7 separate regions of the Homo sapiens genome follow, and all the other regions are reported to be linked to region 6. The links are microRNA targets in miRTarBase. Many come from high-throughput screens and were not tested one by one. Region 6 holds a microRNA gene; each other region holds the end of a gene's coding sequence. Distances are between the middles of the regions.

The links. The annotated mature microRNA hsa-miR-211-5p reads UUCCCUUUGUCAUCCUUCGCCU and lies in region 6 at 1,991-2,012, opposite strand. An mRNA with a match to its seed (bases 2 to 7 or 8) in the 3' UTR can be bound and repressed. Matches are read on the target gene's strand: a 7mer-m8 pairs with bases 2 to 8, a 7mer-A1 pairs with bases 2 to 7 and ends in A, and an 8mer does both.
Region 1: miRTarBase lists TLNRD1 as a target of hsa-miR-211-5p. Seed matches in the 3' UTR shown: 7mer-m8 at 1,264-1,270.
Region 2: the mRNA of ARHGAP6 is a reported target of hsa-miR-211-5p. Seed matches in the 3' UTR shown: 7mer-A1 at 1,927-1,933.
Region 3: miRTarBase lists UGT2B28 as a target of hsa-miR-211-5p. The part of its 3' UTR that is shown has no 7-base or 8-base seed match.
Region 4: the mRNA of FAM167B is a reported target of hsa-miR-211-5p. Seed matches in the 3' UTR shown: 7mer-m8 at 3,510-3,516.
Region 5: miRTarBase lists STC2 as a target of hsa-miR-211-5p. Seed matches in the 3' UTR shown: 7mer-m8 at 974-980.
Region 7: the mRNA of CDC42EP4 is a reported target of hsa-miR-211-5p. The part of its 3' UTR that is shown has no 7-base or 8-base seed match.

The regions. Positions count from the first base shown.
Region 1 is chr15:81,002,520-81,006,596 of GRCh38, reverse strand. TLNRD1 (talin rod domain containing 1) reads right to left here. Exons shown (of 1, transcript NM_022566.3): 1 at 809-4,077. The coding sequence ends at 3,237. Among named protein-coding and RNA genes, the nearest start is that of TLNRD1, 3.6 kb to the right of the region's middle. RefSeq lists an enhancer at 2,999-3,883.
Region 2 is chrX:11,135,546-11,139,609 of GRCh38, reverse strand. ARHGAP6 (Rho GTPase activating protein 6) reads left to right here. Exons shown (of 13, transcript NM_013427.3): 13 at 80-2,066. The coding sequence ends at 747. Among named protein-coding and RNA genes, the nearest start is that of HCCS, 26 kb to the right of the region's middle.
Region 3 is chr4:69,294,598-69,298,662 of GRCh38, forward strand. UGT2B28 (UDP glucuronosyltransferase family 2 member B28) reads left to right here. Exons shown (of 6, transcript NM_053039.2): 6 at 1-453. The coding sequence ends at 212. Among named protein-coding and RNA genes, the nearest start is that of UGT2B28, 16 kb to the left of the region's middle.
Region 4 is chr1:32,248,111-32,252,187 of GRCh38, reverse strand. It overlaps FAM167B (family with sequence similarity 167 member B), which reads right to left. Exons shown (of 2, transcript NM_032648.3): 2 at 3,332-3,817. The coding sequence ends at 3,587. It overlaps LCK (LCK proto-oncogene, Src family tyrosine kinase), which reads right to left and starts at 923. Exons shown (of 13, transcript NM_005356.5): 1 at 817-923. RefSeq lists enhancers at 1,571-1,660, 1,711-1,920, 2,111-2,320, 3,549-3,708.
Region 5 is chr5:173,313,982-173,318,056 of GRCh38, forward strand. It overlaps STC2 (stanniocalcin 2), which reads right to left. Exons shown (of 4, transcript NM_003714.3): 4 at 742-4,075. The coding sequence ends at 3,866. Among named protein-coding and RNA genes, the nearest start is that of MIR12118, 12 kb to the left of the region's middle. RefSeq lists an enhancer at 2,876-4,075.
Region 6 is chr15:31,063,105-31,067,104 of GRCh38, forward strand. It overlaps MIR211 (microRNA 211), which reads right to left and starts at 2,037; the gene lies at 1,928-2,037. It overlaps TRPM1 (transient receptor potential cation channel subfamily M member 1), which reads right to left. Exons shown (of 28, transcript NM_001252024.2): 6 at 3,959-4,000; 7 at 2,972-3,143; 8 at 14-188.
Region 7 is chr17:73,281,744-73,285,820 of GRCh38, forward strand. It overlaps CDC42EP4 (CDC42 effector protein 4), which reads right to left. Exons shown (of 2, transcript NM_012121.5): 2 at 1,881-4,077. The coding sequence ends at 3,687. Among named protein-coding and RNA genes, the nearest start is that of CPSF4L, 22 kb to the left of the region's middle. RefSeq lists enhancers at 22-151, 3,004-3,560.

The DNA.
Region 1 (4,077 bases), 50 Mb from region 6:
CCCGGGAGGTGGAGCTTGCAGTGAGCCGAGATCCCACCCTGGGCGACAGAGTGAGACTCCCTCTCAAAAAAAAAAAAAAGTGTGTGTAAAATAACCAATCAGATGAGGATGGTGGGGGTGCGGAAGAAAGCAAATACACACACATAATTTTTGTGTTTCCTAACATCACCCATAAATGCTATGCTTAAAACAGGCAAAGAAAGATGGAGTTGTGCTTTTTTCTGGTTAAGTCTTATGTTTGAAAGACTGTTTTTGTTCCATTTACTGAGTTGACTATCATAAATAATGTCTTTTGTTCAAAGAACTTAGCAATCATGATTTCCTTTTCTCATGACCATTCAAAGGAAGAAGGTTCTCAACATTCCCTGGTCAAGATGATGCACATTAAGCCTGTGTAAGAAAACTTGCCCTCAGGAGTCAGAAGAACCCAAGGATTAATGTCTTAAATTAACCCTAGTTTAAAAATTAAAAAGCAAACAAAAAAAACAGGCCACTCTGATTTTATTCCTGGAACCAGTATCTCTGCTGACCTTATTAAACCCTATTATGAAATAGGTCTGAGACGCTGCTTTTTTTAAACATCAGGGGCTATTTAAAAAACAAGTTTAGCAACCTGGGACATTAGAGAAAAGTTAAAATGTCAAAGACCTGTGCCCAATCCCCTTGCCTAGCATTCCTCACTCTGGCTTCTTGAAATCTGCTAGAAAAAAAGTACAAGCAGAATTCACTTCAAGACACCTGCTGGAAGAAAAGCCCTGAACTTTATGTTATAAATGGGAGGTGGGGGGTGCAGGAGCAGTGAAAACGCTTAAGTTTAGAACTTTAATCAACTTCAGAGAACAGAGATTATGCATGTTACATGACCAAACGTAGAGCATAAAGAAACACCAAGAGCAGCTATCATTTAGGTAAGAGGTTTCAAAATTCACTTAGTGACTAGCTAGTTAACTTCATCCAAACAGATAGGGAAAGTGATTTTCTTTTTTTTAATTGGCTTGAGTTGTCCTGAAAATCGCTTCTGCAAGGAAAGAGTCCAGGAAAAAACTGGCAATTCTTTTTTTCTTAATCTAATACCAAATTTACAGATTTCTGGCCCTTATTTTACTTAGCGTTTGTTCCTTTCAGTTTACTCTTTGTGATCTGCATAGGATAAATGAAAATGAACCATATAATCAAACTCCATCATTACTTGTGTACATTCAATAAATAAAAATTTCTATATGCATGCAGGATTGTCACTGGCACATGAATTAGAATCCCACCTCCCTTTCATCCTGAACCCCATCCCAACATTAAGGGGCAGAGGAAAGGAATAAAGATGCTCAAGGTCATTTTCATCTTTTAAAGTCTTCAAAAACCCGAAGTTTACCAGGATTTAACAGAGAAAAACTGCTCCCATGGTCATTTTTTTAAAAATTTAAGTACCCTACCACTTTAAGACTTTTTCAAATTTCAAATTCAGGGTGGTGAAACAGTCCTACCCTTACCCAACACAGGTTAAAGACTTTTACACGTTGTATTTCATGTCATTGTAATAAAAACAGCGATTCAAACAAGTAAAATAGTCAATATGACTTTTTTCTCTCTCTCTTAATGTATTACAGTGAAAAATGCTTTCTTTTCAGATCTGTGGGAACTGCAAAGGTTTAAGCACAACAAATCCCAAGAAAAATGTAAATGGAACAAATCTAAACCACGTACGAGTTTTTACTCATGTGGCTCTCCCAGGCTTCAGGCACTGTAAATAGATTTGTTGTGCTTTTAGTGGGAAGATATTCAGAATTTAACTAGGTTCAACAAAACTATACACTCCACCACCACTCACACAAAAAGACTCCTAAAAATGTCTGCAGAAAAGACAAACTACCTTAATATTACTCCAAATTCCAATCAAAGATTCTTCCAACATACAATCAACCATGGCATTATCTTAGATCAAGGTCACAAAAACAAGCCCTTGGCCTACAATCATGTTGTGGCTCTAGAACGTTCTTAACAAGCTTTCCAGGATACTTCTTTCCTCTATTAAGCAGTCTAGGACCCTCTCTATATTTTTTCTGAAATCATGAGGATCTTGTCTGAATAGACCTGTGTACATAAAAGATGCTAACTATTCTCACTTGATGTACAGTACTTTTAGAGTTCCATCCAGAGACTCTGAGTTGGGAAGGCTGGCATACCACACAGGATTAGGATTTAATCTGAAAATGATAGGCAGAATACAAATCAGAATTCAAGCAGCCTGAGCCACTGTTCATGATGATGGAAAGGTAAGTGGAGACAAAGGGAGCTAAATCACTTTCCAGGAAAAATGAGACAAAACCGTCCCAAGCACTCTACATAACCCAATCCCATTTGTGTCACCTGCCTTTTAAAATAGAACGTTACACATAGTCCTCTCTTCAGTTCCAGGCTGCTCAAGGGAGTACTTCTTGAGCAGTACTTTTTCTTGAGGAAATAGTAGAAAGGGCTGGGAATTGGGGGCCCGCCTCACTACTATTGAAATAGCCTTCCCACAGACCCTTCCCATACATGACATGCAGCATGCAAAATTACAATTATTGAAAAATCAACAATAATTGCAAAAAGCCATCTGAGAAACATAACATTTTAATAGATGAAATAAATACTCCAGTACATGCAAGGTAAAAACTTGACGTTGGGGGAAAAAAAAATCACTCTATAGTGTAAATTAAAAAAACACACGCTCACAGTAGCTTCCCCCCATTTGCAAATCACATGGCAAATTCATACTCTTTCCACACCAAGTATACTCCTAATTCAACACGATTGCTTAAAAAAAAAAAAGACATACAAAAAAAGGTAGCTACATCCATGTCTAAGGAGTGAAAACTGAGGTAACCTTTCTTTTAATTAAAAACACAAAAAACAAAAATGAAATGAACCCATGACCTCCTTCCTGCCCAATAATGAAATTTAGTTGAGAAATTCCGGAAGACGGGCTGGGGTAGGGGGTGGGAGTGATAACACAACCAGCAGATGACATATCTTCCAGTCCCTACTGCATGGGGGCTGGTGGAGAGACACCTGGGCCCTCCAAGTGCGTGTGCAGGTTGCGTGCATGGCCCTGCCTTGTGGAAGATTCCTCTCGAGCATTTAACGTTGGGGAGGGTAGGGGGTTTCACCTATGATTTCTTTGGTATAAATGGAGAGGGGCAGAGAGTAAGTATCTTCCTTTAGTCTGGGGGTGGAAGAAGGGGTATGGGGGTGGGGTGCTAATTCACAGAATTGGAATTCACTGGCGGTAAAGTCCTGGGCGAAGACCTCTCCCTTAAAGCCTGAGATAGCAGGGTGCAGCCTTCAGACACGGCGCAGGCCGAGTTCCTCAGCCTCTCCCTGTGGTCCGACATCTTGGCGCCCCCGTCGGGGTGCTGCGCCAGATCCCTGAGGCACTGGGTCAGGAGCACGCAGGCCGACACCACGCTCATGGCGCCGCCCAGGATGGCGGTCTGCACCGCCTTGCCCTCGGCGCTCACAGCTGCCGCGCGACCCAGGAACTGCGGCTCGGTGGCGAAGCCTACCAGGGCGCTCACTGCCTGCACCAGGGGCCCGCTGAAGAGCGCACAGCGGCTGCGCGCCAGCTCACTGGGCGCCACCTTCACCTCGCGCACGCAGGCCAGCAGCGCCGACGCGCTGGTGCTCATGCACTTGACGCCCAGCTTGAACTGCTCCCGCGAAAAGCGGTCCCGTGACTTGTCACTGGCCAGGGCGCACGCGTCCGTCAGGAACTTGAGGTTGCGCGACAGGCCCTGCGACACCTCCAGCAGCAGCTGCGGCGTCATGTCGGCCAGCGGCGTGGCGCGCAGCACGGCGCAACCCTGCTCCACCTCGTGGCGGCATCGCGTCACGCGGTAGCGGTCCACCAGGCCCGGCTGCGCGGGCTGGGCGCCCGGCGTGGCCACAGCGGCCAGATAGGCCGCGTGGGCCGAGCACTCGGTCAGCGACACCACCAGGTCGCCCAGCTCCACCAGGCTGTCCCCCGCCTCCCCGAAGCGGCCCATGTTGAGCTGGCTCTGCACGTCGTGGGTGAGGATGGAGAGCCCCTTGGTGCGCGCG
Region 2 (4,064 bases), not on the chromosome of region 6:
AGGAAATAACAGGATTTGAATCCCCAGCAAGGATTCTACAAACTGATTCCATTTCTTGGGCTTTCTCTCTGGCTTCCAGGTTCCTCTGGAGACATTTTTGAAAGCAGCTCCCTAAGAGCGGGGCCCTGCTCCCTTTCTCAAGGGAACCTGTCCCCAAATTGGCCTCGGTGGCAGGGGAGCCCCGCAGAGCTGGACAGCGACACGCAGGGGGCTCGGAGGACTCAGGCCGCAGCCCCCGCGACGGAGGGCAGGGCCCACCCTGCGGTGTCGCGCGCCTGCAGCACGCCCCACGTCCAGGTGGCAGGGAAAGCCGAGCGGCCCACGGCCAGGTCGGAGCAGTACTTGACCCTGAGCGGCGCCCACGACCTCAGCGAGAGTGAGCTGGATGTGGCCGGGCTGCAGAGCCGGGCCACACCTCAGTGCCAAAGACCCCATGGGAGTGGGAGGGATGACAAGCGGCCCCCGCCTCCATACCCGGGCCCAGGGAAGCCCGCGGCAGCGGCAGCCTGGATCCAGGGGCCCCCGGAAGGCGTGGAGACACCCACGGACCAGGGAGGCCAAGCAGCCGAGCGAGAGCAGCAGGTCACGCAGAAAAAACTGAGCAGCGCCAACTCCCTGCCAGCGGGCGAGCAGGACAGTCCGCGCCTGGGGGACGCTGGCTGGCTCGACTGGCAGAGAGAGCGCTGGCAGATCTGGGAGCTCCTGTCGACCGACAACCCCGATGCCCTGCCCGAGACGCTGGTCTGAGCCCGCACCCAGCCGAGCCCCCCCTGCCCCGAGCCCCCCGCCCTCCAGCCCAGGGGGGACCGTGGGTGGTGGCCACTGGCACACTTAGTGTTCTTCTTTCACACTTCTCAAAAGTGACACAAGAGAAATCCAGTTCACCTACAGAGGTAGAGCACTCACGCCCCCGCCATTGAGAATAAGGTTCCATTGCGTAGCCAGCCTTAGGAAAAACAAACAGAACCCAAACCAGATGGCAATGTCCAATCTAAAAACGTCCCTCTTGGCTCTATAATATAAGATACAACTCTTGCTTGGTATAGCCTAACCGTATTTATGTGTCTTCGGTTTTGACTATTGTGTATTCTGTAACAGATTATGTATAATCATATATGATATATTCACAAAGAGAAAACAAAAGGAACTTTTAAAAAAAAAATCACTTCACTTATATTAAGCAATGAGATATACTAAACAATGAGATTCTATAGAATGTTCTAGAATGTGCACAAGCGGGTTTCTGTGCTTTTGCCATAGCTTTATAACTGGGGATAACCCTTCCTTCGATACCAAACACTAACAAGAGGAAGCAGAATATGAGAAGCCATATTTTTACATAGGAGTCAGATACAAAAAGAAAAATCACTGAATGCTTTTAGATATTGAATACGTTTTCAGGAAAATGCTAAATCTGATAGATTACGAAATATATTTTTAGAACTTGTTTAGAAAGGATTCAGTTAACCAAACAAGAAAAAGGCAGTGCCTCACAAAGAAATTAAGAAGTTGTCCGTCCCACGTTACATCAAATTCAGTTTTATATAGGCCATATATAATATATATTTATAATGTATAATTTTTATGTATTTTTCAAAACTACAAACTGGAATCCAACTATAAAGTGTTTAAGAATCTACACAGAATATTCAAATTATAGAACATGTTTTTTCCCTTTGCCCCATAATCAGTATTTGCCAAATTACATGCAATTCCTTAAAAACTAAATCACATTTGGTAAAAGGCCTACAGCTTTGTACTTACATTGTGCCAAAGGCTGAGGAAATGTTTTCTTTCGTAATTTTATGTGTATTGTAAAATGTTCTACCGTACTTTAGTAGTTTGAAGTTTTTCAAGTGCATAACTATTTTTGACCAGCAGATGGCGATACGCTTCAGTATTTTATGCAATTTTTTTTCACTTCTGAAGGGAAAGTGTATTATAAAAAAAGATTTTTTTTTTTTTTATAAAACATGCTACTCTTAATTTTCATGTTGGTGATGAAATTCCCAGTGGTGTTTCTTAAGGTTCTATCTTGTGCCATGATGAATAAAAAGTTAAGCAAAGGCTTTGTTTCCTGGCTTTAAATCTCTTGAATGAATTTGCATCACATTTCAGACATATTCTTCACTATCCACAGATCCAAGTGTAATAAATCATGGCAATTCTATGCATATACATATATAGCAAAAAAGCTGGTTTAAAAATATCAGATGGCTTTGGGACATCAACTCAGTGACACCAAAGCATTTAGAAATGTATAATAATTTGTTGCAAGTAAAGGCTGATTTCCTCGACTGTTGAAGAGGTGGTTTTCTACAGGACTGAAACTCAGGTTTCCTGAGTTTCCTGAACTGTGTTGGGCAGCTGTTGCCCAACGCAATTCCTGTTAAGCTACACCTGCTCTGTGGGCCTTAGATGCCTAATTTGCTTCAGGGCCGAAATAATAAAAGCTAGAAGTGGCATGTGGTATTTCTTATTTGGGAATGGTTTGAGATAGCTTCAGGCTCTGCCATCCGGTCCAGCACTTCCACCACTGGCTGGGACTCAGGGAGGATTTGCCTGCAGACCTCTGGTTCTTCCTGACTGCCCACACTCAGCCAAAAGTTGTCAACAAGATCCAGAGGAAATGCTGCTTGGTTGTGGATCGCAGGTGGCTTTTCTGTGCCACCTACTCTCATCCTACTCCTGCTGATGCTACTTCCCTGGCTTTGAATTTGACCATGATCTGATCAGTTCTTTCCCTCCTTCCTAGATTGGATGGCCTGATAAATGCGACTCTCTTTCTACCATGTTCTTGCTAGAGTAGTCCTATTTTTAAAAAAACATCCAGATCAAATGGCCCTGAAGTTGATGCCTGTGTCAGAAAAGGTCACGAAAAGTATGTCCATCTGTTAATAGATCTAAAATAAGCAGTCCAGAAAACAGGACTCACAATATCTTTTACATATATCTCAATATTCACTCTCCCTCTCTTTGTACATTTAAGCTTAGGGGCCATGTCTTTAGCTTAGTGAGTTACAGCTTGTTTCTTTTTCTCTTTTGAGATGGAGTCTTGCTCTCTCACCCAGGCTGGAGTGTAGTGCTATGATCTGTGCTCACTGCAACTTCTGCCTCCTGGGCTTAAGCGATTCTCCTGCCTCAGCCTCCTGAGTAGCTGGGATTACAGGCGCACAACACCATGCCCGGCTAATTTTTGTATTTTAGTAGAGATAGGGTTTCCCCATGTTGGCTGGGCTGGTCTCGAACTCCTGACCTGAGGTGATCCACCCGCCTCGGCCTCCCAAAGTGTTGGGATTACAGGTGTGAGCCACCGTGCCGGGCCTTGTTTCTTAAATGCCTTTATCATATTGAAAATAAGCAGTTTAAAAAAAATCGTACATGAAACCCAAAGACCTGAGGGAAATTATCCTTTCTAATACCTTATAAATGATATAATACCTGACAAGAAAAAAATAAAAAACTCTTTCAAGCTGGCCAAAATGCCTTTAAAAGGCTGTTCAAGTCACTCATTCCCCATGAACAGACAGCTTCAACAAGCATGAAAAAAGCTTCAGTGTGTCACATATGTTTCTCCATCTATGAATACTCTGACATTGACATTGAAACAATATGAGCCATTGTTTTTGTGTCTCTGGCAAAGGGGCCAGAATGGGGATGGCAGAAATGGCCAAATACGAATTTGTCTTGATCCATCTAAGTAGCTATTACCATATGTTTGTTGTGGGTTTTTATAGAAAAAAAAACCCTCTTATACCAATGGAATTTGTGCAAATTGAGGAAATTTCTAAATAAACCCAGCTTGCTTCTTTTCTTATGCACATTTTAATACACATCTGCTTGGCAGAGAAACAGCATTGGGATTAAATATAAAGGGACGTCAGAACAAAGTCCAGGCCTGTGGGGTATGTTGGTCTGATAAGCAAACTGGGGGAGGTAGATTATACTGAACTGAGAAGAAAGGAAATGACTGAAGAAGAGTTACACAGAGGTTAAAACAGGACATCTCAACTGAGAATTTTAAAACAGAACTAAATCAGTAGCAAATGTTCTTCAAGAGAAAA
Region 3 (4,065 bases), not on the chromosome of region 6:
CAGTCTTCTGGATTGAATTTGTGATGTGCCACAAAGGAGCCAAACACCTTCGAGTTGCAGCCCGTGACCTCACCTGGTTCCAGTACCACTCTTTGGATGTGATTGGGTTTCTGCTGGCCTGTGTGGCAACTGTGATATTTGTCGTCACAAAGTTTTGTCTGTTTTGTTTCTGGAAGTTTGCTAGAAAAGGGAAGAAGGGAAAAAGAGATTAGTTATGTCTGACATTTGAAGCTGGAAAACCAGATAGATGGGTTGACATCAGTTTATTCCAGCAAGAAAGAAAAGATTGTTATGCAAGATTTCTTTCTTCCTGTGACAAAAAAAAAAACTTTTCAAAATCTACCTTGTCAAGTAAAAATTTGTTTTTCAGAGATTTACCACCCAGGTAATGGTTAGAAATATTCTGTGGCAATGAAGAAAACACTAGGGAAAATAAAAAATAATATAAAGCCATATGAGCTCATATTGAAATTTGTTGCACTTATATTGAGATTTGTTGTTTGAATTCACAAGTTACATAAAAATATTACTCAGTTTAACTACATTTCACACATTTTATATAAACACAAGAACATTAAGAAGTCTACTGACAGTATCAGTAGTGTTTTGCACATACTCAGAATAATTTGGCTTCATTTTGAACAGGATTCGGTTGTTTTAACTGTTGCTAAAGAAACTATTACATAGTTAAATTGTATAAAAAGTCTCTCTCTTCCTTTTGATATCTTGAGATAAGTAGTATTGCTTTACTTTTACACTGCATGCAGCTTCATTGTCACATTTTTTGCTAAAATTGATGGCCAAATGTTTACTGTTTTAAGAGCATAAGTCATTTCTCAGTGGAAATTATGTGAAATTAGAAATATAGCCACTGTTACCTGCTTCCTACTGTAAAATTGAACTGTTTTGCCACATCTTTGGTTTCATGAGCAAATTCTATTTTTTCCAGATATTTAAAGATATTTTTCTCGTTGATTTTATTCTGATATTTTTAATTACTTCAATAGTTATTTGGGAACAGGTGGTGTTTGATTAGATGCATACGTTTTTTAGTGGTAATTTCTGAGGTTACGTGGCACATATCATGTGAGAAGTGTACCTTGCACTGAATGTATACTCTTTATCCCTCACCCCCTCCCACACTCCCATCTGAATCCTTAGAGCCCATTACATCATCTTTATGCTTTTGCATCCTTATAGCTTAGATCCCACTTAGAAGTGACAATTGACGATGTTCAGTTTTCTATTCCTGAATTTCTTCACTTAGAATAATGCTCTCCCACTTCATGCAAGTTGCTGTTAATGCCATTAGTTTGTTTCTTTTTACAGCTTAGTAGTATTCCATGGTATATATATATATATATATATATATATATATATATAGTGTATATGCGTGTGTATACGTGTGTGTGTGTGTGTGTTTGTGTGTGTTTGTATCAGGGGAACCCACCTTCAATATTTCAATGTAGGTTCTTCCCATTTTCCATAAGTGTTGGCCAGCTGAGAAATAAAGAGAAAGAGTACAAAAAGAGGAATTTTACAGCTGGGCTGCCGGGGGTGACATCACATATTGGTAGGACCATGATGCCCACCTGAGCCTCAAACCAGCAGGTTTTCTATTAAGGGTTTCAAAAGGTGGGGTGGGGAGTTGTGTAGGAACAGGGAGTAGGTACAACGATCACATGCTTCAAAGGACAAAAGGCAGAACAAAGATCACATGCTTCTGAGGGAACAGGACAAAGGGCAAAGCAGAACTACTGATAAGGGTCTATGTTCAGTGGTGCATGTATTGTGTTGATAAATATCTTAAACAACAGAAAACAGGGTTCGAGAGCAGAGAACTGGTCTGACCACAAATTTACCAGGGTGGAGATTTTCCCCACCCTAATAAGCCTGAGGGTATTGCAGGAGACCAGGACATACCTCAGTCCTTATCTCAACCACGTAAGACAGACATTCTCAGAGTGGCTGTTTATAGACCTCCCCCCAGGAATGCATTCCTTTCCCAGATTACTAATATTAATATTCCTTGCTAGGCTAAGAATTTAGCGATATCTTCCCTACTTGCACGTCCATTTATAGGCTCTCTGAAAGAAGAAAAAATGGCTCTTTTTGCCCCACCTCACAGGCAGTCAGACCTTATGGTTGTCTTCCCTTGTCCCCTAAATGTTGTTGTTATTCTGTTCTTTTTCAAGGTGCACTGATTTCTTATTGTTCAAACACACATGTTTTACAAGCACTTTGTACAGTTAACACAATTATCACAGTGGCCCTGAGGTGATGTACATCCTCAGGTTATGAAGATAACAGCATTAAGATATTAAAGTAAGACAGGCATAAGAAATTCTAAAGGTATTATTTGGGAACTGATAAATGTCCATATTAAAGTGAAATCTTCACAATTTATGTTCCTCTGCCTCAGCTCCACCCAGTCCCTCCATTCGGGATCCCTGACTTCCTGCAACATCTGTGTGTGTGTGTTTGTATGTATACCACATTTTCTTTATCCACTTATTGGTTGGTTGATGGGCATTTAGGCTTGTTCCATTCTTTTTCTTTTTTAATTGCGAATAGTACTGTTGCAAACATGTATGTGTGTGGGTCTTTTTCATATAAAAATTTTCTTTCCTCCGGGAAGATACACAGTAGTGCGATAGGTGGATCAAACTGTACTTCTACTGTAATTTCTTATAGAAATCTTCATATGGTTTTCCATATTACTTGTACTAGTTTACATTCCCATAGCAGCATAAAACTGTCCCCTTTTTACCACATCTATGCCAACATTTTATTATTTTTGGATTTTTAAATTATATTCATTCTTTCAGGAGTATAGTGGTATTGCATTGTGGTTTTGATTTGCATTTTCCTGATAATTAGTGAAGTTGAGCATTTTTTCATATATGTTGGCCATTTATATATCTTCTTTTAAGAATTGTCTATTTATTACATTAGGCTACTTTTTGGTGGGTTTTTGCTTTTTTTTAGCCATTTGAAGATTCTGGACATTAGTCCTTTGTCAGATAAATAGTTCATGAATATTTTCCACTATTCTGTGAGTTGTCTGTTTACACAGATGATTATTTCTTTTGCTGGCGGAAGTTTTTAGTTTGATTAAATCACAACTCTTTATCTTTGCTTTAGTTGCATTTGCTTTTGGATATTTGGTCATGAGGTTTTTGCCTAACCTAATGTCTAGAAGAGTTTTTCCAATGTTACTTTCTAGAATTTGTTATTGTTTCAGGTCTTAGATTTCATTATTTGATCCATCTTGAGTTGACTTTTTATAAGGGAGAGACAAAGATGCAGTTTCATTCTTCTACATGGGGATTGCCAATTATTCCAGCCCCATTTGTTGAATAGGGTGTCATTTCCCCACTTTATGTTTCTGTTTGCTTTGTCAAAGTTCAGTGGGCTGTAAGTACTTGTCTTTATTTCTGGAATTTCTCTTCTGTTCCATTGATCGATATGCCTGTTTTTATACTGATACCATGTTGTTTTGGTAACTTGTAATATGCCTTGTAATACTTTGGGTAATGTGATGCCTGTAGGTTTGTTCTTTTTCTTAGTCTTTCTTTGGCTATGCAGGTTTCAAAACTGAGAATCAAATAAAAAACTCATCCATTTTGAAAATAGTTGCAAAAGAAAAAGAAAAACAAAACAAATTACTAAGGAATCTACCTAACCAAGAAGGTGAAAGAACTCTACAAAGAAAACTACTAAACACTGCTGAAAAATGTCGTAGATGACACAAACAAATGGAAATATATCCCATGCTCATGGATGGGTAGAATCAATTTTGTGAAAATGAACACATTGCCAAAAGAAATCTATAAATCCATTTCAATTCTCATCAAAACACCATCATCATGCTTAAGAGAACTAGAAAAAAAATCCTAAATTTGATATGAGTTTTATTATCATATTTGACTTGTAGTAAGAAATGTAAATCCTTTATTTTAGGTTGTGATAATATAGAAATTACACTCTAAAGGGACTTAGTGAATTTTCAATCTTGCTAAATATACAGGTACATATATATGTCCATTTCTTTTAAAACAAGAC
Region 4 (4,077 bases), not on the chromosome of region 6:
TCCTCACCCAGGACCAACTGCACCCCTGTCTGGGATAAAAATAGTACTTCCTCTTCCTTTCTCCCATCATTCTCTTTCACTTCCAACTTCCCATACTCAGATCAGATATGTCCATCCACCCTGGAGCTCCATCCCAGATGATGGACACCCCCACACATATCAGTTCACGCCCATCAGGAGATTCTTCCCTCGATCGCTGAGGCTAAAATCACTCCTCGCATGTCCATCTGGATGCCTTGGGTGATCTCTGTCTCTCTCTCTCTCTCTCTCTCTCTCTCTCTCTCTCTCTCTCTTTCTCAGGAGATTCTTGTCACTGGGGTCTGCCCCAGAAACCAGAAGGATTCCTGGGTCCTCTGAGTCCAGCCTGTCCATCACCCTGCTCCAGGCGGGGTGGCCACAGCCTCAGCCATCACTCTCAGCCCTGCCACTGCCTTGCTGAGAAACCGTGGGCAGTGAGTGCCTTGTTCTCTCTGGGCCTCAGGAGCCTCATCCTCATGGCCTGAGGGACTGGGCTTGGTGGTTTCTGGAAGCCTTTTTAACACCTGACTGTCCATGTGCCTGGTGTCCAGGAAACACGCTCCCAGTCAGGTGGGGCCACTGGTGGACAGCACGACAGAGGCAAGCGACACCAGCTTCGCAGGAAAGAGGCGACCCAGCTACACTGCCTGCCTCCCACCTGACCTTGAGCGAGGATCTTCTCTCCCCAGCCACAAAGGGCTGCTGCATCCCTAGGGAGCCTGGGCCCGCACAGCTGCAGCCGTCTGCTATCAGGCCTCTCACCCCGGCGCCTGCGCCCCCAATACCAGCGCTCCTTACCTGCCCAGCCCGGGAGCCCTCTGGCCCCATTCACATGGTCCTCCTGGCCTAACCTGGCTGCCTGGACAGTCTCAGCTCCCTTCGCCGTCGTAGCCACCACCTGTCTCCCCGCGCCCACGTCCCACCCTGACTTCCTGCCTCCTCCGGAGGGCTCCGCAGCCAACCGGGCCCCAGCAGCCCAACCACAACCCTCTAGCACGCCAAGCTTCCTGCCACCATAGACCCCTGCCTCTCAGCCCCTGGGGGTCCCCTACATCTCCAGACCAGGTCCATCTTCCCCTACTGTCCCAGGGTGACACTGGGAGGTTTAAAGTTGAGGGGAGGATGTCTGATAGACCCTCCCTTCTGCCCTCCAGGGTGCATCTGGGCAAGAGATTCAAGGGCAGCCTTTGGGCCCAGTGAGCAGGGGGCAAGCGGACACACACTCAGCTTATGGTGAGAGGCAAACAGCACCTCAGCACCACCGTTGCAGCTGAGAGACCCTTTTGTTTCTGTCTGGCAGCAAAGGTAGCATCGTTCAGAGTCAGAGGAGAGGACAATATCCCTGTTAAATAGCTGGTGAGCAGACCATGCATGTTACAGTCAGGTCAGGCCGAGAGAACAATTCCCATGTCATCTCAGGGCATGGAACAGTAGCTTTATTATAGTCAAGGGTAGGTGAATGGCAGGCTACCATCCCTCTTACAGACAGAATGCTGGAAAACAGCCTGTTTCAGGAGGCAGACAGGACAACCTCATGTCTTCAAGAGGGCATAGTAACGGCCCCTGCTGTAGTCAGAGGCCAGGACAACACCCATTAATCATGGTTGGAGAGTAGGGCAACAGTTCGAATTCAGGTAGAGGCAAGGCCACAGCCCCTGGCAGAGGTGGAGGGCTTGGCACTATCTCCTGCAACAGGTGGAAGACAGAGCAAACAGGGCCGCTCAGGCCCCCAGGTGCAGGCCACAGACTGTCAGGACTTTCTGTTATAAGCAGGAGGCAAGAAGATTGTCACGAGCAGCAGGCAGGCAAAGAATTTCCATTTCCCCTGGGGCCAGGCTGAGGGGGCACCCATCATTAGCTGAGGGCCAGGTCACCAGTGATATGAGGAACTCCAGGTGGCCTCATCAGGTCCAAGAACTCGGCCTTGACCCCACCAGGAGGAAAGTGCACATGCGTCACTGCCTGAGTGAGCTGGTAGGGGGAGGGGAACCCACAGAGCATTGTTGGGGCTTGTGAGGTGGAAGCGATGCTGTGTGCACCTCAGCTGCAGAGAGAAGTGGGGGCAGGAAATAGGTGGGGGGAAGAGGAAGCCTGAGTTGGAAAGTCAGACAAAGAGGGTAACACAGAAACAAAGGCTGAGAGAGACAAAGTGAAAAACCTTCACAGTGACACAGAGCCTAGAGTTGGAGCTCCAAGCCTGGTGCAGGGCCCAGACTCCCTTGCAATGTAAGCCTGAACACTTCACGGTCCATCTCCCTGTCTCAGCACAGAGTAGAAAGACTGCCGCGCTGGGAGTGAGTAATAGTTCATATTCACTGAGCGCTCACTGTGCACTATCTCCCGTAAGGCACATCTGCTGCCTGTGGAGTGAGAATCAGCATCTCCATTGTGGAGGTGAGGAAACAGACTCAGGGGTTAAGGGAGCTCCTCAGGGTCGAATAGAAATAAACGGTGGCTCAGGCCTGTAATCCTAGCACTTTGGAAACCCCAGGCAGGTGGATCACTTGAGGTCAGGAGTTTGAGACCAGCCTGGCCAACATGCTGAAACCCTGTCTCTATTAAAAATACAAAAATTAGCCGGGCATGGTGGCGGGTGCCTATAATCCCAGCTACTCGGGAGGCTGAGGCAGGAGAATCGCTTGAAATCGGAAGGTGGAGGTTGCAGTGAGCCAAGATCGCGCCACTACTCCAGCCTGGGCGAAAGAGTGAAATTCCATCTCAAAAAAAAGAAAAAAAAAAGAAAAGAAAAGAAAGGAAATTAGCTAGGCGAGGTGGTGGCCACCTGTAATCCCAGCTACTTGGGAGGCTGAGGCAGGAGAATCGCTTGAAATCAGAAGGTGGAGGTTGCAGTGAGCCAAGATCGCGCCACTACTCCAGCCTGGGCGAAAGAGTGAAATTCCATCTCAAAAAAAAGAAAAAAAAAGAAAAGAAAAGAAAGGAAATTAGCCAGGCGAGGTGGTGGCCGCCTGTAATCCCAGCTACTTGGGAGGCTGAGGCAGGAGAATCGCTTGATCCCCGGAGGCGGAGGTTGCAGTGAGCTGAGATTGTGCTACTGCATTCCAGCCTGGGTGACAGAGTGAGACTCTGCCTCAAAAAAAAAAAAAAAAAAAGAAGCAGAAGAAATAACAACAACAAAAAGAAATAAACGGGGTAGCTGGCTTTGAACCCATGTCTCTCAGATTCTGCATTCTTCAGGAGCCCAATTTACCTAAGTCACCTCCCATGGGCCTGCAGTGAACTAGGGTGGTCCCAGTGACAGGCGACATTCAGATAGCGGCCTTGGGCCTGAATAAACGACTGCAAGAGACCTTGATGGGAACCAGAGAAAGCGTTTATTGAGGAGTTTGAGGGTGTGAGCTCCTCCTCCTCCCCCTCCCAGCTGGGTCAGCAGAGGAAACAGGATGCTGGGGTTTTGCACTCTTGGAATTCAGCTCTCAGAAACCTGAATGTTCCTCCTCCCCCGCCAGGAGCTGGTGCCTCTGGGGCACCCCTCCCTTTCCTCTTCCCAGGCAGGCAGGGGAAGCGGCATTGGGAGAGGGGGCGGGGAGTCGGGGGGCACAGGTGTTCCTCAGCAGAGGGTGAAGCGCCGGGCGCTGATGTTCATGCGCGTGAGGCCCAGGTGCCGCAGCAGCGGGGCCAGGGCTAGGCCGGCCCCGGGCTCCAGCTCCAGCTCCAGCTCGGCCTCATCCAGCAGCTCCTGGTGCAGGTGACAGGCTTGGTCCATCTTCAGTCGGTGCAGCTGGGCCCGCAGCCGCAGCAGCTGCCCTGCCAGCTGCCTGTCCTGCGCCTGCATCTCCCGCTGCGGCCGAGAGGGGGCGTGAGCCTACTGGACAGGCCCTCGGCCGCGCGCCGTTTCTCCCTTCCTGGCAACGCTGGGCCTTTGCACTGACTGTGTCCTCCCCAGCCCCCTCTCACCTCAGCTTGATCTCTCCCTATCTCCCAATCTGGCTTCACCTGGTGGTTCTCAAACCCAGCTAAGGAGTCATTATTAAGCAAATCCAACTGCCTGGGCCCCATCCCAAATCAACTAAGCAGAATCTCTGTGTTGGAGCCTGGGTA
Region 5 (4,075 bases), not on the chromosome of region 6:
AACTTAAAAATAAATTTAAAGTGGAGATTCTAGGCCTGAAGTAGGGGAAGGTGTGTGGGCTTAGGAGTCCTGATCTGAGTTTGAGTTCAGACCCCACCCCACTCACTAGCCACACAGTTTGGGACAAGTCTGTACCTCAGTTTCTTCACCTGTAGAATGAGGATAATACCTATTATTTGTGGGATGTAATGAGGATGAAATAATGCATGCAAAATGCCTACTGTGGTGCCTGGAACATAGTAGGTACACCAACAGTGGCACAGATCACGTAAACCAGGGGCTCCAGCTCTGTTCTGCTGTCGTGAGCAAGAGCTGGGGAGGAGGCAGTGGGCTTCCCTCTATATGCCAGGCCACTCAGCTGTTAAGCTGGTGGTGTCTGCTGCAGGCTCAGTCTGAGAGAAGGGGTGGCCAAGCCACAGGGGAGACTCACAGGGGAGACTCAAAGGTGAGACCAGAGTGAGCCTTAAGGACCTGCCTAATGGGGTGTGGGGGTGGCACTTCCAGGCCAACTGCATGAAATTTATTCTCCTCCTTGTCTGGGTGACTCAGGCAGGGGCTTGGACAGGGTCCCTCTGACGGAGAAGCCTAGGGTAGTCCTCTTCATCTAACTTCCTTCCCTGTAGGCTGAACATCCACAGAAGCATAGGATTCTCTTGACGTAAAAGCCCACTTGCTCACAGCTGTCCCCCTGTGCACCGGACATCAATGACCCTCTCAGACAATGACGCTACTCAAGTGGAAGCCATTTATTTAAAACTTTTATTAACGCTTGAAGAAAAATAATGCAATGTGACAATGTACAGGTCCTGTTGCCTAAATCCGTAGTAGAAACAGATATTATCACTTAGCAAGCTCACGTGGTGCCAATTCTGAGATCAGACGGGGTTGTTCCTCCTTAGGAAGTGGCCACTGGAAGCATTGTTTTTCCATGCTATTTCCGTGAAGCCTTTTGCTTGGTTCGAGTTTAAATTTCTCCCTTTGTGTGAGTATGACTATAGTTCTGGCCTGGTGTTTTCTATTTATTTAGTTTTAGATGTCAGCATTTTACTATACTTGGTCCTCTCACTTCAGAATAACAGGGCTATTTATTGATACAAAGGAGAGGTGTTCAGATCATCTTGTTAAGATGCAGAGCTCAAAATAAACACTAAATCTTTATTTGGAGATCCACATCCTTCCTCAAAGGAAGGCTCATGAGTAAATTTGTATGCAGTATAAAGCCCAAGTAGAGGGTGTATTTTTAATGACTACTTTGCTTACATTTTAGATTGTGCAAATGTCTCAATCAATGCTTGCAGGAATGTGGACCTTCCTCAGTTTTAAGCAGAAGACCCTGAGCAATAAATACTGTTGCATGCTTCCAATAACGTGAGGGATGGGATAGAAATGCTATCTACCCGACTTCTGAGGAGAAAACAAAGCAGTGGCATGAAAAATATACAACAGAGATCAGTAAATGGGTTCAAATGAACACAGTAAACCATTTTATGCCTTAGGGGGAAAACACAGAGATAATAAATACAAATGACAAATATTTACAATAGAAGCAACGAATGGGATCAGTAGGCGAACACATAAAACATTTACACGGAGGAAAATGGAAATGTGATGCCTTTCACACATCCAGTCCAGGAGCTGGCGGACAAATGAACAGCTGACTCAGCAACGCAGGAGAATGTTATTGCTTTAGCTTTTGAGTGATGTCAGTAAAACAGTCAACGTGCCTGCCGCGGTGGCTCACTGCAGGAGACAGCCACGGTTTACACTCGTTCCCATGGCAGAGCCTGACACACAGGTCCTCCTCCCCCCAAGGGCAGAGCTGGATTAAGTGCACCAGCTCTTCTGTTCTCTGCAGCCCCAGATCTTGCTGGGTGCCCAGGGAGCCCGGTGGCGGGGGCTGGAGGTGGGGTTTCCTCCCTTCCCCCAACCAATGATTCCCCTCCCCACCCAACCGCCGGCATGGATCATGAAAGACTGGGATTGGATTTGGGGCATAGAAATACTAGCTGTGTTTTGGTTGAAGGCATTCCCCAGGAACAAGTCATTTTAGAGCAGATACGCTTGGTTTCTTGGTGTCTGGCCTCAGGTTGCCTTGAGGAAGAGCTGATGAGTTGACGGATAAGGATGCATATGCTTTTTGACCCACTCACTAGAACAGAGATCAGTAAACTGTGTCCTGTGAGTGAAATTCAGCTGGGAGCCTGTTAAATAAATCTTCCTGGAAGGGAGCCAAGCCCTCTCGTTTGTGTGTTGTCTATGGCTGCTTTTGTGCTAGGACGGCAGAGTTGAGTAGTTTCGACAGAGACCTCACGGCTCGCCAAACTGAAAGTACTGGATTCAGTATCTGGCCCTTTGCAGACAATGTTTGCTGACCCCCTACTCCAGAAGAGCCCAGCCCAGAATACCCGGCCACTCCCTACAATACCAGCTCCTGCTTGAGAAAGGATAGGCTTTAATTTGATGGCCAATTAGGAAGAAAAGGCCTATTTAGGTGATGTTTTAAATAACCCAAGAAACCCACTGCTGAGACTTTTAATGAAAATCCTCACTCTCCTTTCCTCGTATTTTTAGTTCTGTCTCTTCTCTCTGCCTTTATTTGTCCCCTTGGACTCCTCTCCTTATTGCTAAATTTCCAATTAGGATCTGGAAAATCCTGTCCCTTAGAGATTTTCAGCAGTCTCCTTGATTTTATGTAAAAGGTCAGCATTTCCTGATGGGAATTACTAAGTAGTCTTCATTCTCTTCTTTCCTTTCCCATCCCCTCACATGGAGAAGCCAGGTTTCCAGCTGGGTCTCCTGGAATCGCCAGGACGCAGCTTTACCAATCTTGGCTGAGGGTCAAGGTGAGATAACGAAATCCTAAGGGAAATTTGTCAAATGTACTCCCCAGGTGTGTATTTTCCTCTGGGTATAAGGTTTCCCCCAAGTGGGCAGGAGTCCATGTCAGGCAGTCAGATGTATGGCTATGTCGCTGTTTGATAGCTTTTAAAATAGAACTTAAAAAAAAGAAAAATCAGCCTCAAAGGATGGGCTGGTTTTTTTTTTTTAAACCCCCTTTGAGCTGGTTTTAATGACCCAGTTGCTTTGTTTGAAAGCCATTTATTTAGATGACAGATATGTAGATATAACTGGATAAATAAAAAAAGTGAAATCGAGATTTGAAGCAGTGGTTAAAATATAAACTCATAGGGGCCACTCCCTTGGACAGTGTCCCCCCCAGCCCAGACAGTACAATGGCTCAGAAATTACACATAGAAATGACACTCCTCCCTCCACCCTCGCCAAGAGCTCTGAACCGCAAGGCCCCACACAAGAAACTGAATTTCAGTTTGGCACCAAGCACCCCCTCGGCCCCTGCCTCCTCTCCACCCTTCTCCTGCATTCTAAGCGATATTTATTTTTACATTCACTCCTGTCCTGGAATCCAGCCGCCCTGACTTCCGCGGAGACAGCACCAGAGGCTGCTGCACCAGAAGCTTCGGGGCGAGGCCCAGCACCCACTGTGTGGCCCAGCTCTGGGGGCCCTGCCTTGCCCTGCCCCTCCCTGGTTCACCTCCCCCACAACAGAGCGGCCGACACCCACTGACTCCACAGATGGAAAGAAGACAAAGGTACGAGGATAACGCGGGCGCGCTCCCTTGAGTACGTGTAAGTGCAGAATTCACCAGGCACCCCTGAGACCCCACGGCCCCAGGGGTCTCCATCTCACCTGTCCGTTCCGCGAACACACACCTCGATGAAGTCCACAGTCCCCACAGAATCCTGCGTGTGACATCCCCCCTCTCTAATGGTAAATGTTTTGGAATGTCCATAGATAAGAAAATGGACGGCGTGGAGGAAAGATTTCGTGGCCAGGCCTTTCATTTCACCTCCGGATATCAGAATACTCAGACTGTTCGTCTTCCCACTCGCTGCTTCCGGAAGGTCCCTGAGCCCCAAGGCCCCCGACTCTGCCTCGGGCATGGGCGTTTGGGTGGCTCTTGCTACCTCGCTCACCCTTGGCACCTCGGCCAGTCTCCCTACTGCTGGGCTCTGGGAGGTGATGTCCTGCTTCCCCGTGGTGGGCCCTGGAGAG
Region 6 (4,000 bases):
TCAGAAATCCTACCCGCCTTCTTCACAGTACTTGTGCGCAAAGGACAGGATGTCCGAGGCACGTCCGCTGCCATCACAAATCACCACAGGGATGGGAGGCTCTTCTTGCAGGTATTCCAAGACGATGGACACCACGTTAGGGCCCCCCTCCACCACGAGACCCACGAGGGGCACGCCCTGCCCCAGTCCTGCAACACAAACCACATTCGCCCATACCACCTGTGCCCTGCACTGTCCACCCAGTCGTTTTAACTCCTGAAGTATGGGGAAGAGTAAAAACATTACGACTTGGGGGATGTTCTATCTGGCTGGAAGGAATTCAGGCATGTGATAACAATTTTCTTTTTCTTTTCTTTTCTTTTTTCTTTTTTGAGACAGAATCACACTCTGTCCCCCAAGCTGGAGTGCAGTGGCATGATCATGGCTCACTGCAGCCTCAACCTCCCTCTCAGCTCAGGCAATCCTCCCACCTCAGCCTCCTGAGTAGCTGGGACTATGGGCACATGCCACCACACCTGGCTAATTTTTGGTAGAGATGAAGTCTTGCCATGTTGCCCAGGCTGGTCTCAAACACCTGGGCTCAAGTGATCCACCTGCCTTGGCCTCCCAAAGTGCTAGGATTACAGGTGTAAGCCACTGTGCCCAGCCCAGTTATCATTCTTGCATTCTGTCACATATTATGGCCTCATTGGGAAAACCAGGACCTCAAAGTCTGAAACTTTCTGACTCACATATGGTTAAACTCCTGAATAACCCACCCACCTGATGTTGGGGCTACTTCAAGGTGACCACTGAGAAATATTGGAAGGTATTCCTGGCTGGAAAAATATCCCCCTGGCTGTCCTAGCCTATGGTCTGAAATTCCCACCCTGATGGCTGTCCCTGAAGAATAAGATGATGAAAGGGGATCTGGACCAGCCAGGGAAATTGCAGTTCAATTCCTGGCTTCTCCCTTATGACACTGGGCCAATCACCAAATCACCAAGAGCCTTAGACAGCCATTTGTAAAAGGTGAACAATCACAGTGCTTCCTTTAACTCCTGCAGTTGTAAAAATATCAGAATATGTGTTTGGCTAGCAAATAATTTTGTAAACGTTAAGTAGCATACAAATGAGGTACACTGTTCTTGTTGACGTTTCTGTCTTCAGTGGCTGGAATAAAGTGCAGATCTTGGACGCAGCCACTTGGACCACTAGTGGCCCATCAGTTAATGACCTGTTCCCAGAGTCCTCCCTCTGTCTCTATCAGTTAATAGGACTCTTCAAGAACACAGTGGGTACCAACTAACTTTTGGTGGCAGAACCTGCAGGCATGGCTCTGGGAAGCAAGAGGTGGCAGGAAGATTCCAGGAAGTTGGGATTCTGGAATGGGAAGGAAATGGGAGTGGAGGCACATTTGCCTACTTCCTAATTTTATGCCACACTGGCCATGACAGATCACACTCTGAGCCTATTTCACCAGCTGTCCATTAGTTGTGATGGGAATTAGTTGATCGATATTAACTAAAGGCAAGTGGAAGTATCGTTGGTCTCAGCTCTGAAGGGCTTCAGATAAAAATCTGCCAGCATTGGTTAAGAGAAGATTGGAGAATTTCAAATGAGCCATTTCAGAGTTTCTAATTTGCTTCCATGAGGTGTTTCTACAGTCAGGGACTCTTACATATGTTGAATAACTCTGCTGTGTCCACCAGAGTAATTACAGCTAAGTTCATTTCAGCAGACATGCATTGAGGGTCTGCTTTGTGCAAAGCCCTGACCAGGAGATATTGGAAAAATGAACTAAGATATCCTGGACTCCGCCTTTGAGATTTCCAACCCAAGCAAGGATTGATATTTTCAATCTTTAGGAATATGGTGGCCAAATCACCTTCTTTTCGAGCAACAGAGTAGAACAGGTTCTTCTTGGCTTAGGCTGGAGTCCTCGAAGCTCCGTGCTGTGGGAAGTGACAACTGAGCACCCCTTTGCTGTCCCTGCCCTGCTCAGAGCCCTAGGCGAAGGATGACAAAGGGAAGCCCACAAGTCACATGGCCAGGTGAAATGGGGTGTTGTAAAAACTTACAAGTCCAGAAAAATTAGAGATGTGAGAACAAAAAACATTCAGTCATCGACCAATGTATTCTTCGAGATCTGATTCTCGGAAATCTACAACTTTTCCTAGTAGGCCATCCCCATTCTACCCACTCTGCAGCATCACAGTCCCATACATGATGATTCCCAATGACCATTCGCCAGGACTAGATGGTCTCCCACAAAAATCTTGCCAGTAATGGGAAAAACAAACTGCTCTTTCAGATCATTTAACAATTGTTTGACGTTAAGAATTACTGGAGTATAAACATGCTCCAAGAGATTATACCAGTTATTGTAATTCTAACCAGTTGTTATCATTGTTTCTTCTGGTTGAGGTTTGCGTCTTTCTCTCTAGTTCGACCTCAGCTTTCGTCTGACAGTGACAGCTCCCCCTCAGGACCAGCAAGGATGATGCCCCTTCAGGAGCAGATGGCTCCTGCAGCCCTCTCCAGATATGTCCCCACCTGGCCATCTTAGTCTACATGAAAGGCCCAGCATTACAGAGATATTTAATAATCACATAATACTTATCAGCAAATAGAAAGAATCCTACTAAATCTTTGAGAAATTGTTTTCCTGTTAAAACACTTAAAAAATAACAACTAATTACAGGGAACAAGAACCACTGGGCAACAGGGTGGGCAAGGCCATCACCATGGCGAGCACTGAGGGTTATTTCGTGCTAACTTGTGAACCTGGGGCAAAGCATCCCCATGTAGCCCAGTGAATGTGATTTGGTAGGTGGCTAAGGTAAGACATCTAGGTGAGTCATTTTCTGTTGACCTAACAAGAAGCAAGGTTAATCTTCTAATCCCCTTGGGCAATCAATCTCCTTCTCAGCCTTGTTTCCACTGTGATGGCATCAGCCCAGGAGGACTGCGTGCCTTTGCCAGCACTTACTTGTGTTGATCTTCTGCAGGGAGATGTGCTTTTCCAGCAGCCTTCGCAGCTTCACCTCGGCGCCATACTTGCCCAGGGTGCCATTGTCAGCCAGGATGAAGTGGGTGTGGGAGTTGTTGAGCACAGAGAGCTTACTTAGAGGGTTGGACATGGTCTGGTACACTCTTGTTACCTGACAAAGTGCACAGCGCAAATCAGACCTGCAGGACTTGGATGTTAAGACCAACAAGGGAAGCAAGCACAATACATATGTGTGGAGTGACTGCACTAAAACTTATTCTCACATCTCTACCCTGCCTTTTGAAGGTTTTATTTTTGCCAATTGTTACATTAAAATAGAAAGAAAGTTAATTGTTTTAGATAATGACAACCTAGCAATTGCACCCCTGGCATTTATCACAGAGAAATGAAAACCTATGTTAACCTCAAATCCTGCACTGGAATGTTTATGGCTACTTTACTTGTAACAGCCAAACTGTTCCTCAACAGACAAATGGTTAAAGAAACTGGTGCCTCCATATCATGGGATGTCAGCCAGCAGTAAAAAGGAATGAAGACCAATACATATGGCAACCTGGACGCGTGTTCAGAGAACTATGTGGAGTGAAAAAAAAGCCAATCCCCAAAGGTTACATTACTGTATGATTCCATTTACAGAACCTTCTTGAAATGCGGGGTGGTGCAGATTAGTTGTTTCCAGGGGTTAAGGAAGAGGTGGGGGTAGGAAGGAGTGAGGTATATGTATATGAAAGGGCAACAGGAGGGATCCTCGTGTTGATGGAAACATTCTGCACCTTGACCTTATCAATGACAGTATCCGGGTTGTGATCTTGCATTATGGTTTTGCAAGATGTTACCATTGGAGGAATGGGAAAGGCTGCAAGGGAGCTCTCTTATTATTCTTACAACTGCATCTGAATCAACGGTTACCTCAAAATCAATCATTAATTTTAAAAAACTGCCAACATTTGCAGAGAAAACACTTACATCCTTTCCAACCAGGTCTTCCTTATTCTCCACGATGCCCCA
Region 7 (4,077 bases), not on the chromosome of region 6:
GATTACAGGTGTGAGCCACGGCGCCTGGCTCCCAGCAAATCTTAACAGAGCTCTGTGGCCTGGCTGGTTCTGCGTGTTCATCTCATCCTTGTCTCCTGGGTCCACTGAACCCCCAGCCAGAAGGTATGCTCCTTAAAGCTGTGAATCAAGCCAGGTCCCCGGGTCTTCTTGAATGCTCAGAGCTTTTCCATCAATGGTCAAGAAACAGATTCTGGGGCTCGGGGCGGCTGGTTTCTCTGGGCCCCTAGGGAGTCCCTGGTTAGTCGGTGTAGGTACAGTCATTTCTCTCTCTTGGGAGGTTGCACTGTGTCTGGGAGGCACAGCCCCTTCTCATCTGCCTGGTCCTCGCCTGAACAGTACCTTCCTCTCCCCAGTCATCCCTGAGCTAGACTGTAGCCCCTAGGGACCCGTCTCCCAATGGGCCCCAGCTCTCCTCCCTCTCTCTTCTTCCCTTGGGGCAGCCAGAAGTCCCCGCTCATAACTCCCACACGAATGAGCCTGTCTAGGGACAGAGGGAGGGACCTGAGTGACATTTTAATTATGCCTCTAATTGCTTTCCAGGGAGATGAGTGGGGAACTCACATTTCTCTGTGGGTGCTCAGGGGAGAGTGCAGGGTTTCCACCAGGAACTCAGCCACATTGAGATCCCCAAGATTTCCCCAGATTTCCTGAGAGCAAGCGGGGGCTTCAACAAGCAGTGAGCCAGCCCTACGCAGACCAGGGCTCCCTTCTGAAGCTGTCCAGAAAGAGGGGAACATGATTCAAGGGAAGGAGGTGGTAGGGCAGGGGCAGGGCAGTGGGTTCAGGGGCCACTAGACCCTCACCCCCTGACTTTATATCCCGAGGTTTTGATGTGCCCAGGAGTGGTGGGGTGAGAAGGGCAGGAGTTTTGAATGAATTCTGGGCATTAGAGAAGGCGGCCTCGAGGCTTATCTGATCATCTTTCTCCATCTGGAAAATGGGGATGTGGAGCTTCTATCTCCCTGAGAAGTGAGGTTGAACTGAGGACCTGCCACTTGTAAGCTGATTTTCCAGGCTTAACGGTAAAAGGGGAAAGAGGAGGTGGTAGCCCCGCTCCCAGCATCATGCAGAAACTGCCTTCAGGGCCAGCCACTTTCTGGTGGTGACAGTTCCGTGCACCAGGACACCAGGGGGCTGGGGAGAACACAGTCACTCTCATCCTAATCACAACTGTATAAAAAGCCCATGTCGACCGGCACGGTGGCTCACACCTGTAATCCCAGCATTTTGGGAAGCCAAGGTGGGCGGATCACTTGAGGTCAGGAGTTGGAGACCAACCTGGCCAACATGGTGAAACCCAGTATCTACTAAAAATACAAAAATTAGCTGGGTGTAGTGGCGCACGCCTGTAATCCTAGCTAGTTGGGAGGCTGAGGCAGGAGAATCGCTTGCACCTAGGAAGCGGAGGTTGCAGTGAGCTGAGATCACACCCCTGCACTCCAACCTGGGCGACAGAGTGAGACTCCATCTCAAAAAAAACAAAACAACAACAACAAAAAAAAAAAACAAAAAAAAACAAAAAACCAACCCCCTCCCCCACAAAAAGCCCATGTCACTGTTTCTGTGCCTCAACCCTCTAAGAGTGGCAGGATACCCATTTTACAGAGCAGGAGAGGGAGGCACAGAACAGCTAAGCGACCAAGTGCCAAGGGCTTCCAAGAGATGGCAGTTAGGGACACCTGAGTCCCCAGACTCTGAAGGGGCCTGCCCAGGCAGACAGCATCGCAGGAAGGGCGGGTCCTCACGGACAGAGAGACAGAAGCCACCTCAGGCCCCCCTGGACAGCTCTAGGACCTGGGTCCAGACCCCACCCCCATCCTGAAATAGCCCTCCCAAAAAGCAGAGACAGACACCAGGCGTGCTTTAGGGCTTTTTTTTTAATGTTTCCTCACTGTTTTGACAATATCATGAAAAAAATCAGTTTAGAATCTGGAATTGGCCTGGACGGGATTCGAGGGCAGCTGGCGGGGGCTGCATAGCCCCTGAGGTTCCTCCCCCACCATGGGACCTAAGCTATTGGAAACAGGAGCACCAACAGGGCACCGAACCTGGAACTAAGTTAGTGTCTAGAGTCAGGCAAGAGAGGAGAGTCAGGCAAGAGAGGAGGGGCCGGGCCACAGTCGCCATGGGGACGCCCCTGGCTGTGGTTGGTTCTGTGTCTCCCCCTCCCCTCACTGGCTACATGGAGACAGGGAGGTGGGTCAGGCTGTTCCCAGGACAGAAAAATAACCGGCAGTCAACCTCAGGGCTCATACCCGAGCTTCTGCTCAATCCCCTCGGGGACAGTTACAGGACTCAGAGAGAAACGTGAATTTCAGAAAAACAAATCATTTTTCACATAAGTGTTCCAAATATTGCGTGGGGCATATTAATGCTAGAAAATTATCTTTTGTTTACCTGAAATTTGCGTTTAACTCAGCACTCTGTTTTGGTTTTGCTAAATCTGGCCAACCCTGGCCTCAAAAGTCGGTGGGGGGAGGCCTGAGAAAAGAAAGGGAAGTAGTCAGTACTGAGGGTATTGAGGGGAGGGAGGGAATAACTCAGCCAAAAAGAAAAAAAAGGCTTTCCCCCCATAGGAATGATATATTATTTAAAAAAAAAATCGTTCTCCAAAAATATTCTGCACTGGCCTTCCTCAGTTGTTAATAGCTATGGGAGGTGCGTAGGGAAAACACACACACCAGACACCCACCCCATGTCATTCTAAATAAAGTTGGGAAGCACTAAAGTTGAGCTGGTGTCTTTGCCACGGATGTCCCCAGACTCCAGTCCGCTAATCGCCACCAGACTCCAGTCCGCTAATCGCCACTGTGAATTTTGAAGAGGAGGCTTAGTATAAAGGTTTTCTAAAAGGATTGATTCTCATTCTGAGGCAGACCTATTAACACCATCCTGATATTGCTCTATAAGGATTTAAACACAATAATAAAGAACAAACAAGCCCCTAGGGACTGAGCGAGTGCCCTAGCCCTGTTCCTAGTGTCATCCTGGAAGGGTCCCTTCTTGCAATTCACGAAGCCTGGGGGGCTTTCCTTCCATTCTCCATCCTGTTCTCTTCCCCTGGAAAGGGCTGCGTTTAGTGCACATGCTCGCAGCTGGCCCCCCGTCCAGCTCAGCTCCAAGGGGCTCCAGATTTCCAGGGCAGGAGCTGGGGTGGGGCAGGGAGGGGCTGAGAGGCAAGACCGTCTCCCTCCTGCTGCAGCTGCTTCCCCAGCAGCCACTGCTGGGCACAGCAGAAACGCCAGCAGAGAAAATGGGAGCCGAGAGTCCTTAGCCCTGGAGCTGAGGCTGCCTCTGGGCTGACCCGCTGGCTGTACGTGGCCAGAACTGGGGTTGGCATCTGGCATCCATTTGAGGCCAGGGTGGAGGAAAGGGAGGCCAACAGAGGAAAACCTATTCCTGCTGTGACAACACAGCCCTTGTCCCACGCAGCCTAAGTGCAGGGAGCATGATGAAGTCAGGCAGCCAGTCGGCACCCATGCCAGCCCCCTACGTCCTCCGAAGACCCGAGGGCCAGGCCAGTGTCCCTCATCTACAAGGTCCAGGGTCCATGGTCTGAATCAAGGGTCCTGGCTGCCCCTGCGCCGTAGGGTCAAAGGTCATAGTGGGGTGGGGGCAGGGAGAAGATGCAGCCAAGAGCTCCCGGTGGCCACCCACTGTCCGCCTCACACACGGATTTCATCCTCCTCCTCCTCATCCATGAAGGAGAACTCCTTGTCTGGCTGTCTTGAGACAGCAGCCCGGGCCCTGTCCGGCCCCCGGAAGGCAGGGCTGCGCTCCTCCAGGATGCCTGAGGTGCAGCTGGAGAGGGAGCTGCTGTCCCGTGTGGTGTGGCTGCCCATGCTGCGGGCTGAGCCGGGGCTGGGGGCCGCTGCTGCCCACCCCTCATCCTCCAGAGCATGGGAGGGGAGGGAGGGCAAGTCTGGGCCAGCCTTGCCTTCCTGCCTTGCCAGGGGAGGGGCCGCCACGGCGTACGGGGGAGCCTGGGTGATGGTGCCAGCGGCGCCCTCATCGCCATGGTAACCACCCTCCCCCTCCTCGGGGTCCCACTCCTCC